Regions from separate parts of the Homo sapiens genome. Here region 1 is linked to region 2. Evidence: fine-mapped expression QTL. A gene starts in region 2. The other region holds a variant in brackets. All regions are shown on one strand. Distances are between the middles of the regions. Region 1 overlaps SPG21 (SPG21 abhydrolase domain containing, maspardin). Region 2 holds the start of SPG21 (SPG21 abhydrolase domain containing, maspardin).

What was found.
Region 1: its variant is fine-mapped to the expression of SPG21 in thyroid (GTEx, PIP above 0.99).

Annotation. Positions count from the first base shown.
Region 1 is chr15:64,959,354-64,963,879 of GRCh38, forward strand. It overlaps SPG21 (SPG21 abhydrolase domain containing, maspardin), which reads right to left. Exons shown (of 9, transcript NM_016630.7): 9 at 3,669-4,383. The coding sequence ends at 4,267. Among named protein-coding and RNA genes, the nearest start is that of SPG21, 28 kb to the right of the region's middle. The variant A/G (reference allele first, on the strand shown) is at 1,884.
Region 2 is chr15:64,988,094-64,992,093 of GRCh38, forward strand. It overlaps SPG21 (SPG21 abhydrolase domain containing, maspardin), which reads right to left and starts at 1,821. Exons shown (of 9, transcript NM_016630.7): 1 at 1,572-1,821. RefSeq lists enhancers at 1,028-1,529, 1,530-2,029, 2,085-2,154, 2,195-2,254 and silencers at 1,258-1,552, 1,355-1,404, 1,525-2,014.

The DNA.
Region 1 (4,526 bases), 28 kb before region 2:
TTCTAAAATGTATATTTAAATCACTTTTCCAATGGATATTTACTTACAGTTACTCCCTCCCTTTTCTTTGAGACGGAGTCTTCCTCTGTTGCCAGGCTGGCGTGCAGTGGTGCGATCTCGGCTTACTGCAGCCTCCGACTCCCTGGTTCAAGCGATTCTCCTCTTCAGCCTCCCAAGTAGATGGAATTACAGGCACATGCCACCACGCCCAGCTAATTTTTTTTTGTATTTTTAGTAGCGATGGGGTTTCAACATGTTGGCCAGGATGGTCTTGATCTCCTGACCTCGTGATCTGCCTGGGTTGGCCTTCCAAAGTGCTGGGATTGCAGGCGTGAGCCACTGTGCCTGGCCCCTTTTTAAGATATATACTGTACTTAAAACTATTCACATATAGTCTGCAGGTTTATATACTTAAAAAGTGCGAAGTCTTTCTCCTGTGGATCCCAAGATAACTTCTAGAAGCGGGTACAGGCCCTGGATCACATCATGTATCAAAATGAACCCATAAAACTCCCAGGTTAAGAACTGAGGTGAAGGAGTCCCTGGCTCTTAGTGGAGGTTGCTCCCCGCATCTCTTCCTGTGTGCAGAGCTTCACTAAATGGTTACAGCCCCACTTCAGAGTTTCTGAAACTAGTCTGATTTCCACAACAGAGGTCCCTTAGTGTTCATGCACTGGCAAGTGACAAGATCAGACCTGTGTGTGGACCACACAGAGGATGGGTGGGGGTGGGAGGAGATGGCTGGTGGAGCCAGTGAGGACTGTAGTAGTCTGGGCAAAAGATGCCAAGGCCTAACTTGTAGTGAGGAAGGCTCAAGTTTGCAGGCAAGTTGCTAGATCTCTGAGAGTCAGGGGATATAGGTGTAGTAGATGTGGAAATGCATTGCCCGGACCCCCTTCTTCCAGGAAGGCCTTTCCATCCAGCTGCAGGAGTGAGCTGGGCAGATGGCCTCCAGCTGTCAGCCCTTCAGGGTCTGCCTCAGCTGCAGAGAGTTGCCCCACCCAACACCCTGCCCTCCCCAGGGCAGCTGCCTCTGGGAACTGAGCTACGCGGGAGCATAGAGACCCAGCCATTTTAGTCCTCCATGAAAATATTCCAGTGGGTGCTTCAAGCTCCTGCGTGCCCTACTGAGTTGGTGGGTACTTGATCGGGCCTGCATCACAGTTCAATTTCGCTCTCTGCCCAATCCATCTTCCCTTCACAGATGTTGTTTTTTTGTTTTGTTTTGGAGATTGAGTCTCACTCTGTTGCTCAGGCTGGAGTGCAGTGACACCATCTCAGCTCACCGTAACCTCTGCCACTCTGGTTCAAGTGATTGTCCTGCTTCAGCCTCCTGAGTAGCTGGGATTACAGGCACGTGCCGCCAGGTCTGGCTAATTTTTTTGTATTTTTAGTAGAGACTGGGTTTCTCCATGTTGGCCTGGCTGGTCTTGAACTCCTGACCTCAGGTGATCCACTCCCCTTGGCCTCCCAAAGTACTGGGATTACAGGTGTGAGCCACCACACCAGGCCACAGATGTTGATCCTTAATAAACATCTTGCACCCAAATTTTCATCTCTGCATCCGCTTCAGCCTGAGACATGGGGGTGGAGGAGTGAGTGGGGGTGGAGGGTCCAAGATGGCTGAGTTTCTAACTGGGGATTCCAAGAAATAGTGATGCCAGGACCTAAGAAAATGGGGCTAGAAGAGGAAGGGCAGGTTTGGGCAGTGGGGCCATGGGCATAGCTTTTGACTGGTTGCCTGTCGAAGGCTGAGATGCCTGTTGAAGGCTGGCCTAATAGGCCTGAGTACGCATTCAAGGCCAGTACTCAAAATTGATCAGGGCTGGCAATGACAACTTGCAGTCATCAGGGGGCAGAGCTGGGGAGTAGTTAAAGTTGTT[A/G]GACGGCTCTAGTAGCCTCAGACGCTACTAGTTAAAATGTCAAGCTTCGCCCTTATGGTTTACCAAGTGTTTCCATAACTCATGACTGTTGTCAAGCCACAGATAGAGAAGACAATGTGGCCCCTTTGTGGAAAGATCACTGGCTTTAGGGATGGTCAGATTCAAGGTGGCATCCCAGCTCCACCCCTTACTGCCTGACCCAGTCTCCAGGTCCTCACCTGTAAAGTCAGGATAATCAGGGCTGTATTGGGGATGAAGTCTAAGAAGGTATGGCCAACCCAATATTCTGAAACCTGGCACATAAAGGGAAAGAAGCACTGATGCTTATTTTTCTGTCTAAATTGTATCTCAGCGAAACCAAGCAGTCGATGAGGGCAAGTTTTTGTTTTTTTAAATCGGTAATTTCCAGTTAATAAATGCAGAAGGAATGATAAAAATTAATATTATCACTGACCTGCAACCCCTCATGGAATGATGCACCTGTGCAATGGTCAGCAGTGGCAGCTAAGCCAGCAGGGGACTTTCTCAGGACTGGATCAGGCTGGTGATGCCTGAACACACCCAGCAATCATAATAACTTAGACACAACCAGACAGATGCCTCCTGAGATGACGCGAGAGAAACACACAGCCCCATCTATGCAGTGTTCCTGCCAAAAAGATCGAGCTTGACCTGATCAAGCCTCTTGATGTAACTACCAGTTTACAGGAAATACCAGGGACAGAGAAACAAGTGGAAGGACACCATGAGGCCACAGTCAGCCAAATCTGGACTGTGGGGCAACTACAGGGCAAATGAACCTGTTTCTTCACTGAATATATGGCAAGAAAAAATAGAGGGAGGAGGAGCTTCCAGTTCAAAAGAGATCTAAGAGACAAAGTGTGGGCTTTATATGATTAGAACAAGTCACCTATAAAAAAAAATTTATGGAATAATTGTGAGTGACAACATTCACTGGATTATTAGACAATCCAGTGAAGGAATTATTGGTAAATAATTGAAGGAATTATTGGTAAATTTTTAAGTGTGATAATGGTATTAAGGCTGTATCTTAAAGGTACACATAGAAATATTTACAGATGAAATGACACAGCACCAGAAATGGCTTTAAAATAATTTAGTGATAGGAGCATGTGTGGAAGAAACGTGGGTAGGTTAAAAGATGAACAAGTCCGGGCATGGTGGCTCATGCCTGTAATCCCAGCACTTTGGGAGGCTGATGTGGGCAGATCACCTGAGGTCAGGAGCTCGAGACTAGCCTGACCAACATGGAGAAACCCCATCTCTACTAAAAATACAAAATTAGCCGGGCGTGGTGGTGCATACCTGTAATCTCAGCTACTTGGGAGGCTGAGGCAGAAGAATTGCTTGAACCCGGGAGGCGGAGGTTGCGGTGAGCCGAGATCACGTCATTGCACTCCAGCCTGGGCAACAAGAGCGAAACTCTGTCTCAAAAAAAAAAAAAAGAAAAGATGAACAAGACTGTCTGAGAGTTGATAATTTTTGAAGCTGGATGATGGGAACATCATTCATTATGCCATTTTCTCTACTTCATGTGGGTTTAAGCATTTTCACTCAGGGGAAAGAAGACGAGAAAAGTACCTGGCACACAGTAGCAGATCAATAAATGATAGCTTAGGGTTATTTTATGATGTGCAAACTGTACTTCAGGGAGATTAAGTAACTTACCCAAAGTCACACAGAATTGGCAACCATGACCTACTTCTCAGAAAGTCCTAGGCCTGTGTAGCCCAGTTGGGCAGCAACAATAATCACAAAAGCGACTCAGTTAAATTGAATTTTTATTCCAAATGACTAATATCTAGAAAGGCAGTAGCTAACACTCAAAACAATTTGTTTAAGTGTAAATTAAAAGCAGTTGATTTGCAGGAGAGCAAACAGTGGGGTAGTGGCCATGGCACTCTGATCATGGTTATATCCAAGAAAGCATAAAATAACCAATGTCCTGATATGCAATCTGGATGTGCAGCATTTACAGCAAACAACATAAAAAGAAAGAAAGAAGAATGGAAAAGAAAAGAAGAAAAAAACCACCACAAAGTCCCAAACCTCAGAAATTAACATTCACTTAAGAACACAGTGGTGAAGACTTTTGGTAGCAAAATTTGCACGGTTCTTAAAATGGGAGTCTTCAAAAGTACTTCTTCAAATTCAAAAGCTAAGAAAACCAAAGAGGGAACAGTTACACAGGCTTAGTGGAGATGCCGCCTGTCATGAAGATGACCATCAGTCCTACTTCCCAGACACAGTGAGAACCGGTGAGCCTGACGAACCTGAAGGAAAAGGCTGGCTGACGGGTGCTGATGCCACTGACTATACAAGAACACACCGGGTCAACTCATCATTGACAGCGAGAGACACACTACTGCTCCTCCTGGCTGATGCCAAGGCTGCCTTTCTGCACCTCAAGCTCCTCGGCACTGACCATTGATGGGTCAATGGCCGCGTATTTGGTTCCATGGAATTGCAGCAAATGTATCTGTTGAAATGCAGAATCATTATTTTATTTATTTTTTGAGCTGGAGTGTCACTCTTGTTGCCCAGGCTGGAGTGCAGTGGCACTATCTTGGTTCACTCCAACCTCCGCCTCCCGGGTTCACCCAATTCTCCTGCCTCAGCCTC
Region 2 (4,000 bases):
CTCCTGTAATCCCAGCTACTTAGGAGGCTGAGGCAGGAGAATTGCTTGAACCTGGGTGGCGGAGGTTGCAGTGAGCTGAGATCACACCACTGCACTCCAGCCTGGGCGACAGAGTGAGACTCTGTCTCAAAAAACAAACAAACAAACAAACAAAAAAACCTGCCAGTTGTGACTATGCCCCTATCCCTCATGGCTTCAACAGAACCTGCCACTTTAAAGTCAACAAAATCACCTTTATCAATGTTTAAGTCACATAACCAGCATAATTAGTCAGAGGTTTCTGCTACTTTATTTCAATCTATAGTTGATGTGCATTGTGGAAAATCTGTGCTTATAAATACTAGCCATAACAAAATATTAGAAGCTGAGAGTCTCTGGGAGATGCAACTGGCTTTTTAATGCACGTCTCCATCCCTCACCACAGAAGTACACAGCTATCCTTTTCTTAGATCTCTTCAGGGGAGATCTATCCCTCTTTTCTTCATTGCATTATCTCTAAACCTTACAGGAGGAAAAGGTGCCTACCTGACATCTGTGACATCTCTTCTCATGCTCTTGGGAAAAAAGCTTTTGGAATTTGGACACAGCTATTAAGTTACTCCTCAGTGGCCAGCCGCGATGGCTCACGCCTGTAATCTCAGCCCTTTGGGAGGCCGAGGCGGGCGGATCACGAGGTCAGGAGATCGAGGCCATCCTGGCTAACACGGTGAAACCCCGTCTCTACTAAAAATACAAAAAATTAGCCGGGCGTGGTGGCGGGAGCCTGTAGTGCCAGCTACTCGGGAGGCTGAGGCAGGAGAATGGCGTAAACCCAGCAGACAGAGCTTGCAGTGAGCTGGGATGGCGCCACTGCACTCCAGCCTGGGCGACGGAGCGAGACTCCGTCTCAAAAAAAAAAAAAAAAAAAAAGTTACTCCTTAATTTGTTGAATCTTTGTGCCAAAAGGAGCTGAACCAGTGTAGGTGGAGACAAAGGAAGCAGCATAAATGTCTAACTTATAACTCCCCAGGAAAACGAGAAGAGGAAAAATGAGACACTCCGGTCCCGCTCTGTTCCTCATCCCCCGTTTACAAACCTTACACCTGGCCCACACTCAGTAACAACAAAGACATCTATCACTTTCAGGCCGAGGTCCTGTCTCCAAAATTACTGGCCTCTGCTCACAGTTCTTAAAAGTTTGCTGAGAAAAAAAAAAAGAAAGAAAGAAAGAAAGAAATGTTCCTGGGCTGCAGTCGTGTAGCCCCAGGATGGGTTTACAGGAGGATGCCCCGGTTAAGCCCTGTGCCGCCCCCACCTCCCGCTGGAGACTCACACACAGCTCCCCGCCAGTCCCACCGGTGACAGCCACACAAAGGCAGGGTCACAAGCACACCGACCACCCCACAGCCCAGATTCGGCCCCAGACACACACTCACAAGGGCACGTGATCACGTGCGTGGTCACATGGACCGGCCCACTCAGAACACACTCACAAAGTCACACCAACCAAGGCAGCCACGCGCCACACACACACACCTACAACCCCGCATACCGCACACCCAGCCGCTTCCCAGGGCTTCGCCCACCCTCACCTGCCGTGGCCGCCCCCACGTCCCTTCCCCTCCTTCAGGAGGCCGCTCTTCGCTCCAGTACGAGCGCGGGCCGTGGAGGCGGCTGGGCCCGGGTCGGGGCGGGCGGCGGAGCACTCGGGACCCACGGGCACAGCAGGCTGCGCGGTGCGTGCGGGAGGCCGGCCTCTGAGGGGGCGGGGCGCGTGGCCGAGCGAGCTTGGGCCGCCGCGCTCCCCCCGCCCGACCGCCGCTCAGCTGGCGCGAGACTCCCGCTTCCGGGTTCTCAGAGGGCGGGGCCACGTCGCGAGGAAGGGGCGGTGCTGCGTGGCCCCGGCGGTCGCCACGGCGACGGGCGCGGGGGGAGGCTCCGTGGGATGCTTGGCTGCGGCTGGCGTGAGGAGAGGGCTGAGTTACGTCTGGGTCAGCCTTAGTTCTGCCCTACGTACCTAGGAGGAGGAGGAGGTGGAGGAGGCGCCTGGCCCCTTGGGACCTGCTTCTTCTTTCAGTTCGCGTTTTCTCTGTCGTGTACAGCTTTGGAGGGACACCTTTGGGTTCCAGACTTTGATGAACACAACTTTGTATACTCTTTTCTTAGGAACATTTTTTTTCCTTTGGCACAACCGTAGACGCTCTCCGTAGTCCTCCACTCAAAGCCTCCGCTTCCTTTTTGACGTTCTGGGGATTTCTGGGAACATACGCCCACCCATCTTCCTGTTCCTTCATCACTTTTCCCTTAAAATCAGAGAGAATATTAATACATTTGTAATCATTGTTCTTAAGGTGTTGCAGACGTCACGTCTTAAGGTGTTCCAGACTTCACGACTCCTTTTTTATTAGTAAAATATTTCTGAAATTATGATAAGGTGAATAACATGTAAATCTCCTTGTTTTGAATTTTTTTTTTAGGGATCCTGCAACAAGGTCCTGTTGAAAGTGCCTCTCTCTAATATGTTTTAGGGAAAGCTTGTACCCTGTTTTAGGGCCTGTAGACTTTGCCTTTACCTAGGCAACTGTTTATGGGATTAAGGTCAGGGAAGATTCCAACTAAATTGCATCCTACTTAGTTATCACTTCTGTCCCCTGGCCCAGGAGCCTTGGGTTCCACTCTAGAACTTGGACAAATCCCAAAAGCATTTTCCAAAAGCACGGTGACATACTTACCTTTTTCTTTCTTTCTTTTTTTCTCTAAATCATTTCTTTCGGGGTTGCAACTCAGTCGCAGGAATTCATCTTTTATTGTAAGCACCACATAGATGTATAGAGCACGTTTCCGTGGAGTATTTTAAGTTGGGGGCCTTTTCTCCAACATTTGGAATCGTTTAATGGGTGGAATAACTTGCAAACTACTGGTTGTCTCTGAAACTGGTTATGGATATTCATTACATTAGTTGTCTATTTTCCCAGGTGGTCTCGAAGCTTCAATCTAGAGCAAAGGGAATAGAGTGATTCCACCAGTCCATTAGCACATGATTAGCCCATAAATAATAGGTACTAAATGTATATTGATTGTAATCCCAGCACTTTGGGAGGCCAAGGTGGACGGATCGCTTGATTGAGCCCAGGAGTTCGAGACTAGCCTGGGCAACCTGGGAGACCCTGTCTGTACAAAAAAATACAAAAATTAGCCGGGCGTGGTGGCGCATGCCTGTAATCCCCGCTACTCAGGAGGCTGAGATGGGAGAATCTGTTAAGCCCAGATGTCGAATCCACTGCACCACATCCTAGGTGACAAAGCGAGAGACCTTGTCTGCTCCCAACAAAAAACTATATTGAATGAATTAATGAGTGGAATAAATAAATCTATCCCCATTTCCACATTTGTTCCTAAAGCTGTATTCCTTAGACCCCATCCCTAGACCCCATTTAGTAACAGCTTTAATGAGACCTAATCTATGGATATACCCGTATGTTAAAAGTCATTGTTCTGTTAGTGTGGTAGTAAACTTTGACAATTGACAATAAAAAAAAATCACTATGTAGATATGTTTTGTTACATATCAACTTTTATTACAATGTAGACCAATCCAAAAATAATAAATGTTTTACTTCTTTCAGGAAGGGAAACCATGGTCATGTTTGTGTCCTCAGTTGTTCCATAACACATGGCAAGCACATTGTCCCTTTCCTAATCCCAACAAAGAACATTTAATATCTGTGAATTCCAGCTGAATTGTAATGCACAAATTCAGGCAGCAAACTTTTGATTCAGGCAGGTCCCAGTGCAGGCTGACCTGGTAGACATGGCTGTAAGGATTTGCAGCTGTTGTGGCTGGGGTCTGCCAGATGGTTCCCACAGCACCAATTCATCTGTGAGAATCTCACAGAAAAACTGGAATGTTCACAAAATATGCTGTGAACACCAAGCAAAGTAAACAGATGGCCAGCTGGCTCTCAGAATTACCCAAACCCGGGCTCTGTCCCTCTTAATTTATCTTTTCACAGGATAATAT